Linked DNA regions of Homo sapiens. The protein of the gene in region 3 purifies or fractionates together with the protein of the main gene of each other region. This does not show direct contact. Each region holds a gene or a part of one and is shown on either strand. Other genes may lie near its edges. The genes, in order: OLA1, STK38L and MAST4.

Region 1 (4,368 bases), on a different chromosome or scaffold from region 3:
ACCTGAGGTCAGGAGTTCAACACCAGCCTGGCCAACATGGTAAAACCCCGTCTCTACTAAAAATAGAAAAATTAGCCGGGCGTGGTGGCACATGCCTGTAATCCCAGCTACCCGGGAGGCAGAGGCAGGATAATTGCTGGAACCTGGGAGGCAGAGGCTGCAGTGAGCTGAGATCACGTCACTGCACTCCAGCCTGGGCAAAAGAGCAAGACTCCATCTCAAAAAAAAAGAAGACTTTGAACACTTAAGTTGCGTGTGTATAGAGTTATGATAAACCCCACATATATTTCCTATCACTCTCTTATTTGCATATATTCAATTCACTGTAACTTTGAAAACATTACAGCTGGGCTCAGTGGCTCATGCCTGTAATCCCAGCACTATAAGAGGCTGAGGCAGGTGGATCATATGAGGTCAGGGGTTCAAGACCAGCCTGGCCAACATGGTGAAACCCCGTCTCTACTAAAAATACAAAAATTAGCTGGGCGTGGTGGTGCGCGCCTGTAATCCCAGCTACTCAGGAAGCTGAGACAGGAGAATCACTTGAACCCGGGAGGCAGAGGTTGCAGTGAGTCAAGATCATGCCACTGCATTCCAGCCTGGGCGACAGAGTGAGACTCCATCTCAAAAAAAAAAAAGAAAAAGAAAAGAAAATATTACAAAACTCAAATTTCTGCTCTCAGAACTTTCAGATTTAGACTCTTTATAACAGCAAACCTTTTACGATTTCCACTACGAAATTCAAAACTGTCACCTCCTTCTCCATCAAGCTTATTATGGTGGAGCTTTCAAATCAATTTCCTAAAGTAGCCTACTGCATGGCCTCTGGTAGACAGCCTATGTAGGTACCACACATAGCCAACCAGCACTGAAATCAATAAAATACATCTAAACTAAAGCCTAATTTTGCAATATTAATAGTCCAGCTTCCTGGCCTCTTTTCTTCAACTTAAAGTTTAATTACCTCACGGTTCCCATTTCTACAATAGGACCCAAAATATTTACAAAATGAAAATCACAAAAGCCCCAACGTTCACCTACCCAACATTTGGCAATCCAACAATACCAATTTTCAGTGAGGTTCCAAATCTTCCAATGATTGGGGGTGGTTTAATTCCATCACCTCCCTTTTTAGGGGGCATCTGAAATACCAAAGCAAACATATGAACAAAACTTTTTACTATCCACATGGACCCAAAACACATTTCATCACATACAATATATTATTGAATTAAGATTAAGAACAAAACATACTGTATATAGCGATCCAAAACTAACACAGAGCTAAATCCACTTTTTTTTCAGCAAAAATGTTTAAAAAGTTCTGTAAACATATCCGTTGTCAAAAGAGTCATTGCTGAGAAGTCCCAGAAAGACTGATCTAAAATCAATATTTGTTGGGCCGGGCACGGTGGCTCAGGCCTGTAATCCCAGCACTTTGGGAGGGGGAGGCCGAGGTGGGCAGACTGCTTGAGACCAGGAGTCGAGACCAGCCTGGCCAACACGGAGAAACCCCGTCTCTACTAAAAAGAAAAACAAATACAAAAAAATTAGCCGGCCATCAGGCGCGCAGCCTGTAATTCCAGCTACTCGGGAGGCTGAGGCTCGAGAACTGCTTGAACTCGGGAGGCGAAGGTTGCGGTGCGCCAAGATCACGCCACTGGGCTCTGCCTGAGCGACAAAGCTAGGCTCTGTCTTAAATAAATAAATAAATAAATAAAATATTTGTGGCACCAGGAATCAAAGATAAACTTAGAGTTTAGCTACCAATCTTCCATCCAGACTGCTCACAAAACACTTTATATCTTAACCTGATATATGGTTATATGAAAGAAAGCATTTGGAAGCAAGTACACAGAAGACAGTCAAAGAAAATTCCATTGTGGAACCACCAGCAGCCAAGTCACCCTTCACACCAAACCATTCCTCTATAATCTGGAATCTTATCTTTCCCATTCGCCCACAACCCCCATTTTTCACATAGATGAACACCCACCAGGTACTGGGGTCCTTCCACCAAGTCCCTCCCACCTTTGGCACTGAAGGTACGGCTCATCAGTCCTCATAAGCAACCTCCAAAATCTACATTATGGTTACTATTTCTAATGGTAAATTAATCGACGGAACCTTTTTATTTACAAGTCGAAACTTTCTCTGTCCCTTACTAGTTCTGTCTCCAAATCATGCGTGCAGAATTACTCCCACCCTTGGACTGCAAAGTGAAATCACAAAGACCGCTAAGCTCACGTCTCAGAAGCTGGGAACTAAAACTGTCCCAGTCTTCTGGCTGAGAGTTGTACCTCCTAGGACCACGCTGGGGCCCTGCCCTTGCAGTAGTATTCCAGCCTCTGATCCCTGACCCCGAGGGCCAGGAATTTCCCTTCTCAGCGTCCTGACACCTGTTCCTGGCCAACTCCCAGGCCTCCAAAGAACAGATACAGGAACAGCGCCTGTCGGGTCCTCTGGCCTACAGAGAGGTGGCCGGCAGCCCACCCAAAGTGGGCCCCACCCCCCATCCTCCTCTCCGGACTGGGCCACCGGGCGTCCTGGCGTCGGGAGAAGGCTTTCCCCAGGGCTTTCCCGCGTGAGGCGTAGGCCGATCTCCCGACGCGCGGCCTAGTCCGACAGCGCCTCATTCATCCACACATCCCCAAGCCACCCGCTGCCCTGGCCCCATCTTGGCCACTGGGCCCGGGCCCCGCGCCAGCCTCAGGGCAATGAGCCCAGGCGCCGAAGACCTGGCGGAGATCGCGCCCCCGGGCTCCCTGAGGGCCTCACCGTGCTCGGCCTGGGCGATGACACGGGGTCCCAGCGGCAGCGAGAGAAAGGTCCTGCCGGCAGCTGGAGGCGGGGAGGAAGGAGGAGAGAACGCAGGCCCGTCCCCTCCGCCGAGCGGCACGCACGACGGCGGCGACAGCGGCGGAACGGGCGGGCCGGGCGCCGAGCGGCACCTGCGCGCAGACCATGGGCCCCGCCCCTCCCCGCCTTGCCCGCGCGTCCCGCCCATTGGCCTAACCGGCCGGGGAGGCGGGAGTAGGGCGGGAGGAGCCCAGGGTGGGAGGAGCCGCGCGGCGGCAGGGAGCTGGAGAGGGGAAGGCGCTGGCTAGGCCGTTCCCGGGAGCTCTAGTCTTCCGCTTCGGCACGTGGGCTTCTCGGTTCTAGGTCTCCGCTTCCGTCTGGCTGCGCGGCCTGGGTTACCTGCTCACGTTCACTCGCGGGCCTACAGCCCCAAGCTTTCCCAGCTGGACTGCGGAGTGCCTTGGGCCCTGACTTCCCTCCGGGAGATCCGGGGCGTCTGAAGTCAGGCAAACAGCCACACCAGCCCCGAGGACCGCGTGGCCGCTAGCCCATCTCCCTTTTCTATAACTTTATTCGCTCAGTCTGTGCGGAGAGAAGCTGTTAACTAAAAGTTCTTGAAGGAAAAGGGGCTAAGGGAAACTTTGGTCTAGGGATTTCTTCCTCGCCTTATAGTTAAAGCGTCGCACACAGGTACTGGATCACAGAATGCGTTTAATTGAGCCAATTTCCCCCCTTTTCCTCTTGGTAGTTGAGAGCAGGGGCCTTTGAAATTTGGGAATTTCCAATCTGGATTTCGCCACTCATTGACTGTATGACCCTAGACAAATTAACTTCTCTGGACTTCAATTTCGTTCTGGATAAAATGAGGCTATTAAAACCACCTTATGAGGTTATTCGTGTGAGAATAAAATGAGACAATGCGTGTTGAGCTCATAACAACAGTACTCAGCACATACAGAAAAGGCTTGTGAGTAGTCGCTGTTGTTAATATTAGGATTTCATCCCATCTCACCCACATCATATCAATACCATGAGCGCCACTGGAGAAGGAATTCTTTCATTTAGGTCCTGGCCTTCAGATGTCATTCAGGTATTTGTTGTAATGAATATGATACCTGTCCAAAAATTGTGACACTAGAAGCTCCTTTTAAAGGGATTAGTTGCTATTAATATTAAAGGATGTAAATAGGTCGCCATCCCCATTTTACAAGTGAGGAAACAATATCAGAAAGGTTGATTAATTTGGATGAAGTCACACAACTAGTAAATGGCAGCAGCATATTTCAAACCACAATCTAACTGAAAATCTGGCCGTAATCCCAGCACTTTGGGAGGCCAAGATAGGGGGATCAGTTGAGCCTAGGAGTTGGAGAACAGCCTGGACAACGTGGTGAGACCCCATCTCTACCAAAAAACAAAAATTAGCTGGGTGTAGTGGCACATACCTGTAGTCCCAGCTACTCAGGAGGCTGAGGTGAGAGGATGGCTTGAGCCTGAGAGCTCAAGGTTGCAGTGAGCTATGATCACTGCCGCAGCACTCTAGCCTGGGTGTAGAGCAAGACCTTATCT
Region 2 (3,646 bases), on a different chromosome or scaffold from region 3:
TAGGGGATTTTGTTGATGACAGGCTATGATTCCCCAGAGGGAAGAGGTGTGGAAGGCAAGGAAGGTTGAGATACTGAGTTGGATTAGAGAACTATAGATAATGATGGGAATATAGCAAGACCCCATTCTCCACAAAAAGGAAGAAAAAAGAAAGATAATGATGGCAATAAGGACGTGGGTAAAGATGCATAGCCTCAGAGACAGGGAGGGCAACAGGAATCTAACTTAGCCATAATGGGATTAGTCCTACTAGGGTATAATAGGAAGGACAGAAGGAAGCAGTTAGTTCCAGCTGTAGTGTAGATACCAGCCAGCCACATGTGGCTACTGGGCACAAATTGGGATATCCAGCAAATAAGGCTTGGTGCAAAAATAAATAAATAAATAAATAAAATATTTCAATGATTTTTATATTGATTACATACTAAGGTGATAATATTCGGATATATTAGGTTACATAAACTGTATTATTAAAAATAATTTCATTCTGTATGTGGCTTCTAGAAAATTTAAAAATTACATACATGACTTGTGTTACATCTGTACTGGACAGCCCTTGGTCTACAATATTTTGTGGGAAGTTAAGGAGCCTCTGGACCACTGCTCTTTCCTGTGGGGAGGTGGGGGGCGGAAATCTCTCCGTAGCCTAACGTCTAGTTGCCTTTGCATTTTGGGGTTGTTTTTTACCCCTGTATAAATTAATTTGCATTTGTTACCACTGGATTTTGTTTTAGAAAGCTTTTTTCTACTCAATTCTAATACATCAATATTTTAACTTTTATCACATTTATTTTAATGCAAACCACCCCCACAAAATTAAATACCAACTGATCTCCTCACTGTTGTTCTACCAGATTACTATAGGTCATACTTTCCAACCTTTGGATCCTGTTTTGGAAAGGGATCCTGTAATTTGGCTTTAAACCATTTAAAAATAATCAAGCCATGTTTATGTTGTAGTTGTTTTCCTTACACACCAGATGCAACACCAAAGTTTAGGGCTTTTCCTTACCACCTTAAATTGCTTCATGAAAGGTAATAGGTAGGCACTCTTGCTACCACTTTTCACTTAATGAAACAGATCCATAGAAATTATAAAGTATTTTCATGCCAGAAGACAAGTTCTTACTCCTCAACTCTTACGCTTTGATCTCAGAATATTTACTGCACTAGGAGTAATTCCAAATATGACACTTTAAGCAGATCATATTTTATTATCATAGAAAGGTTTACAAATGTATGTTCTCATGTGCTTTGGACCAGAGTTTTTAACGTTGCACAATGAAAATAGCAAAAGCATAAATCAAATCTTATTAATCTTTGGAAAAAGTGTATAAATATATTAATGCAAAAGCATCTGCAAACTGACCAGTTATACCAACCCCATAAATTATCCAGTTTATAAAATTTTCCAGTCTATAACATTTTCACATGATAGTATCTCTAGTAATTATGTGTCCGAGAAATCAGTGGCAAAATCCCCAAAAGTTACACAAATTTGCTTTAGCTAACATTTATAGATATGGTAGAGGTTTTATATTATAACAATAATATAACATAAAGTTACTATAATTGTTACTATTTCTTTAAAAAACACCAAATAATGATCAAGCTGGGACCTTTGTTTAACAATTAAAAATAGTTTGCTATTTTTAGCCAAGCTTAGGTTTGCTGTACCAATTTACAGGGCATTGCTTACTCTTTTTTTTTTTGAGATGGAGTCTCGTTCTGTCACCAAGCTGGAGTGCAGTGACGCAATCTCGGCTCACTGCAACCTCCGCCTCCCGGGTTCAAGCGATTCTCCTGCCTCAGCCTCCTGAGTAGCCGGGACTACTGGTGTGTGCCACCATGCCTGGCTAATTTTTTGTATGTTTAGTAGAGACGGGGTTTCACCGTTTTAGCCAGGATGGTCTCAATCTCCTGACCTCGTGATCCACCTGCCCTGGCCTCCCAAAGTGCTGGGATTACAGGCGTGAGCCACTGTGCCCGGCCCTGCTTACTACTTTTAACTTTAAAAATCACACTAGTGCCCTAAATTTATGTGACAAAGCCAGGATCCTAGGCTGGGTAGAGATTCTGGTTAAAAAGTTGTTAGACTGATTCTTGCTCTACCTCAGAGGCCTCAGCTTCACGTAATATACCTGTTGACCTCACCTTTTCAGACCTAAAGATATAAGCTAAAATAAACTATTTCTTGAGGTTCTCCATATTTGATGAGAATACGAACATTCATACATGTATCAAATCTTCTGAAACTCCATCTTTCCTTCATTAACTGTTATGGATGGATAAGTGTAAGAGATGAGTTTAACAAATGTGTGATGTATTTACAATTATTTTTTTCAAAAATATATTCATCTAGGTGGCCCATATCCGAGCAGAAAGAGATATTTTGGTAGAAGCAGATGGTGCCTGGGTGGTGAAGATGTTTTACAGTTTTCAGGATAAGAGGAATCTTTATCTAATCATGGAATTTCTCCCTGGAGGTAAAAGCAAACATTGTATCAATGACAGACTGATACAAGCACATCTTTATATGCAACAATAATTTTATTGGTGAGGTTTACTTTTATATTCTTTGCTCTGAGGCTTTACATAGTCACAGTTTAAAAATATTTACTACCATATTGATGCTCATTTTTACCACAAAACAGATTGTTTTGAAGGAATTATAAAGTTAGCACATTTTAAATATTACCGTTCTGGGTTCACTGTATATAATTAGGTTGTTATAAGTTGTGTTAGTTTATTTTATGTTGTTACAAAAAATACCTGAGACTGGATGGGCGCAGTGGCTCACGCCTGTAATCCCAGCACTTTGGGAGGCCGAGGCGGATGGATCACGAGGTCAGGAGATCAAGACCATCCTGGCTAACAAGGTGAAACCCCGTCTCTACTAAAAATAAAAAAAATTAGCTGGGCGCAGTGGCGGGCGCCTGTAGTCCCAGCTACTTGGGAGGCTGAGGCAGGAGAATGGTGTGAACCCGGGAGGCGGAGCTTGCAGTGAGCCGAGATAGCGCCACTGCAGTCCGGCCTGGGCGAAAACAGCGAGACTACGTCTCAAAAAAAAAAAAAAAAAATACCTGAGACTGTGTAATTTATAAAGGAAAGAGGTTTAATCATTGCTCAGCAAAGAGGGCAAGGGGAAAAGAATGGCAATGGAGGGCAAAGAATTCTGGGTTTTGTTTTGTTTTGTTTTAATTTTTATTTTTTGAGATGAAGTCTCGCTCTGTTGCCTAGGCTGGAGTGCAGTGGTGTGATCTTGGCTCACTACAACCTCTGCCTCCCGGGTTCAAGCGATTCTCCTGTCTCAGCCTCCTGAGTAGCTGGGATTACAGGTGCCCACCACCATGCCCAGCTAATTTTTTTTGTATTTAGTAGAGACGGGGTTTCACCATGTTGGTCAGGCTGGTCTCAAACTCCTGACCTCAAGTGATCCACCCACCTCAGCCTCCCAGAGTGTTGGGAATACAGGCGTGAACCACTGCCCCTGGCTCCCTATTTTTTTTAAAGCCTCAAAAAATATATGAAAAAAATGTAATCAGTTGTCAATTCTGTGTTGTAAGTGCACCAGTGTTTACAACAGTTAAAACTGTTAAAACTTTTAAAATTCCTTGAAAATAAAAGAATGTCTGCAGGTGCCTTT
Region 3 (4,096 bases):
GGATAAGGGAGCTATATTATGCAGTATCAATCTCTCGCTTGACCATAAGCTGCTCAAGGGCAGGGGACCTGACTTATTAATCTTTGTATCCCCTGCACCTGGCACACATCTCCATCAACGTACATGGAACTGAGGCGGTTGAATTTACATCCCAGGTCACTGTGCCAGAGCTCAGAATGGGACTAGAGCTGAAGGCAAGAGAGGAATCATTTATTTCCCACTGCTGAGCTGAGTGCTGGCTTCCAAGGAAATTCCAGTCACCGGACAGGCAGCATCCTCCAGCCCCAGGGAAGGACTTAAGGGTACTCTATTGGTACCTTTAGTGAAAGTTCTTTCTCCTAGTTCTTAGAGGTAAGGAAAATGAAGCAACCTGTCCTGTATCCTGTTGGTTTACAACCCAGGGCTAGGAGAATGTACATTGGAAAGTGAATCCTTTTCATCCTCTGCTTAGCTGATCATACCGAGACAGACAATTTGAGTAGGACTACAGAGCTTGGTCCTAATTAAATACAAGGACATACTTTTTTATCTTCCTCCCTATCAAAAGGTTCAAGTCTCAGACTTAACTTTTTAGTTTACAAACAGAAATAAAGACAGGAAATAGTCTTTTAAAAACGCTCCGTGTATCCAAGCCAGGCACTTTGCTGATGCATTATATATATTTGCTCTAAGCCTGCCAAGACCAGTAGTAATGTAGCCATTTACAGTTGAGGAAACTGAGGCCCAAAGAGCTTAAACGGAAAAGCAGAGATTAGAGGTCACTCCCCTTTGGGTCCGCTCACTATACCACGAAGTTTCTGTCCTTTTCCTCCAACACGCTGGTGAGTCCGTGTGCGTGGGTGACTGTGTGTGTGTGGTTCCTTTTTTCCCTATAGAGCCCTCCTTCTTGTCCGTTTTCTTGATTCCACTTTTTGGAGACAAAGTCCAGTTCTTCTCCAAGGTCTCACCATCCGCTCGCCGTCTCCCTCTGACGTCCCAAGGACGGTCAGCCACTCCCCCGCTAAGTTCGGAGTCTCAGCCCTTGGCTCCGATTCTGGGCTCCGCCCCCACCCTCCGGGGACCCCCGCCTGGTCCCTGTCCCCTGCGCCCAGGCGCTCCAGCGGGACCACGGCCCGCGCCCGGGCCCCGCCTCCCCTACCTGAGGCCCTCATGGCCGGAGGCGTCGCAGCCTCCGCCCACCAGCGCGCCTGCCCTGCCATTGGCTCTGCGGGCTGCCCGTCTCCTTGCTCCGTCCCGGAGGCAGGTTTTGCAAGGAGAAGCCGCAGTACCCGCGGCTCGGGTGCAGCGCGGGAGCACAGTGGAGCGCAGATCGCGGACCCGAGCGGGCATGTCCCCGCGCGCGGGAGCCTCCGTTTGCGGCCGGGCCCGGGCGGCTGTGAACTTAGCAGCGGGCTCCTGCGGCCCCGTCACTGCCATGTAGTCGCTGGCGGGGCTCCCTGCAGCCCGGGAGCGGCAGTGCCAGTGAGCCTGAGCCCAGGAGCCCGCGTCTTCCCCGGGAGGCGCTGAGTGCGCGCCGCGCCCCCGCCGCTCGGGAGGCACTTTGGGCCAGACAGGGAAATGGGGGAGAAAGTTTCGGAGGCGCCAGAGCCGGTGCCCCGCGGCTGCAGTGGCCACGGCAGCCGGACTCCAGCCTCTGCGCTGGTCGCCGCGTCCTCTCCGGGTGCTTCCTCGGCCGAGTCCTCCTCGGGCTCAGAAACTCTGTCGGAGGAAGGGGAGCCCGGCGGCTTCTCCAGAGAGCATCAGCCGCCGCCGCCGCCGCCGTTGGGAGGCACCCTGGGCGCCCGGGCGCCCGCCGCGTGGGCTCCGGCAAGCGTGCTGCTGGAGCGCGGAGTCCTTGCGCTGCCGCCGCCGCTTCCCGGAGGAGCTGTGCCGCCCGCGCCCCGGGGCAGCAGCGCGTCCCAGGAGGAGCAGGACGAGGAGGTGGGCCTTTCCCCAGCTTGCCCACTCTGGGTTCCGGCAGCCGGGCGACCGTAGTTTCCCATCCTGCGCACAGGCAGTGGGCAGGAGAGCGCTGTGGCCTGGAGATAGGGAGGGACCCCAAGCGCTCTGCCCCGAGCACGGGACAACGATAGTTAGGAGCCCCCCTGTGGGTTATTGACTTCCCTGTGGCTGTTACCCCCGTGTGTGTGTCTCAGTGTGCTGCCTGATGGTGTGTTTTTAAAATGTCAGAGAAGCAAACTCCTTCGTGTTTGTATCTGACTTGGTTGATCTGTGAAAGGATGCGATCTGGACATCTGGCGTGTCCCCACAACTCACCTCTGATTCTCCAAAGTGGGCGTTGTTTCCCACCGAAGCGCTTGGGCCGAGGGGCAGGGAGTTGAGGGGGAGAAATGGTGCCTTGGGGGTAAGAGGCAGGAGTAGGGTGGGGGGCAGCGGTAGCCGCGGAGTTGCCTGCGGAGGTTTCAGTGGCGCCAGCCCCCTGGGATCGCCCGCGGGTGGTTTTGGCGCGTCCCCGCAGCGTCGGTCCTCTGGGAGAAGAGGACTCCCCGCGCTCCCTCGGTGGCGCTGGCGTGCGCGCCTGCAGCTCCCGTTCAGACTTGTTTCCAGCTTGTCCAGATGAACGCTTGTCACCAAACCGAGTACAGATCGTCTTACCTTTTGCGGGGCGGAGCGGGGTGGGGGATCTGTATCTGCCCAGTTTCCTGGAAGGATGTTCCTCCAGAACTTGTGGGTCGCTTCCTGACACACTGAGCATAGGACTCTGGTGTCCTTCTGGCTGCTCTGTCCGGCTTATTTTCTGCTTTTGGAGGACAGTTAAAGAAGTGTACAATTCTTCACGTCTCAGAGCCAGACTCAGTTTAAAAAAAAAAAAGATTGTTTGCTTTGGACGTTTCTTGTGGGGAAGTCATCTTGATCAGGCAGGGCCACAAATAAAACATCACCTTAACATAGACTTATTGTGAAATTAATTCCTGAGTGCCAGTGTTGTATTTTCCTCATCTTGGATGGGGTTAGCTTTAGTAAATAATTGCCTTTGTCCCTTAGAGTAAGCAATCAGAGGCCCCCAGCCTGGAAGCAAAAACTGGATGTGGCACAAGGTTGAGAGGAGGCGAGTCCTAGCTTGGCAGAGATGGAACAAGCCTTAGCTGCTTAGCTGGTTCTTGGCCAAGCCACTTGCAGTAACCATGACCCATTCCCTAATTCCCCTAAGCCCCCATTGCAAGGATCCTGGATAAGGGTCTGGAGGCCTGCTTTCTAGAACTGCCTCTGCTACTGAGTGGTGAGACCTTGGGTATATCATTTCACTCCTCTGAGGTTCAGTTCCATAATCTGTAAAAGGAGGAGCTTCAAGGTAAATTTCATTTTCACTCTCATACTCCTGTTTCGAATCAGGAATTTCAGATGAATCCATAGCTCCAAATCGATCCTAGCGGCGGGATGTCAGGAGTTTGCTGAGTTCCTCACCCACCGCAGAGCTACATCCTAGCGGAGATGATCAAACCCTGTACTGCCCCAGCCTTCCTCGCTGATTACATCTCCCTTTCAAGGTGCGGGGCATGTGCCACGTGTTTGCCCCTTAACTTCTGCCTCCACTTCTACAGATGAGCACACTGGCATTGGGAAGCTGGGGGTGTACCCTAACTTAATGATTCACCAATAGTTCCTAATTTAGTATTGCCGCTGGTGGAGAGTAGTTAGTTGCTTTATGTTTTCTATTTAGCTAGGAGGGTGCTCCATGGTAAGTGACATGGTCTTGCAGGTGGTGGGGAGGGATGTTGTCGGGGAACTTCTGATCCCCATTCTGTCGCTGATTTATTGCCTGGCCTCAGGGTGACAGTGCTTTGCTTTGTTGGAAGTGGATATAATGATAACTTATTTCACAGGCAATGCAGTGAGAACTGGTTGATTGAAACACATTTTGGAAAGTGGAATGATTAAATAACATGGGTCACTATTTGTGAAATCTCAGAATTGCGTGTAAACTGATACAGTATTGCAATTTATTATGTAACTTAACCTGCGGCATGGGATGCTGGAAATTTCCCAGGAGCAAAATCTTGACTTGCTCTGAGAATTTTAAAGTGAAACGAAAACCAAACCATGTAGTTTTTTCCCCTCTTATGGAGTAGAGGAGTGATAATCTTTGTGAAAGGGG

What was found.
Region 1: the proteins of MAST4 (region 3) and OLA1 fractionate together in Homo sapiens (co-fractionation; one large-scale study listed by BioGRID). This does not show direct contact.
Region 2: the proteins of MAST4 (region 3) and STK38L purify together in Homo sapiens (pull-down; one large-scale study listed by IntAct). This does not show direct contact.

Annotation. Positions count from the first base shown.
Region 1 is NC_000002.12:174,245,674-174,250,041, forward strand, and holds the start of OLA1 (obg-like ATPase 1), read right to left. Parts: upstream 2,860-4,368; 5' UTR 2,779-2,859; intron 1,143-2,778; coding exon 1,042-1,142; intron 1-1,041. UniProt on the Homo sapiens protein: Hydrolyzes ATP, and can also hydrolyze GTP with lower efficiency. Has lower affinity for GTP.
Region 2 is NC_000012.12:27,310,187-27,313,832, forward strand, and holds part of STK38L (serine/threonine-protein kinase 38-like), read left to right. Parts: intron 1-2,362; coding exon 2,363-2,486; intron 2,487-3,646. UniProt on the Homo sapiens protein: Involved in the regulation of structural processes in differentiating and mature neuronal cells.
Region 3 is NC_000005.10:66,595,099-66,599,194, forward strand, and holds the start of MAST4 (microtubule-associated serine/threonine-protein kinase 4), read left to right. Parts: upstream 1-1,294; 5' UTR 1,295-1,557; coding exon 1,558-1,920; intron 1,921-4,096.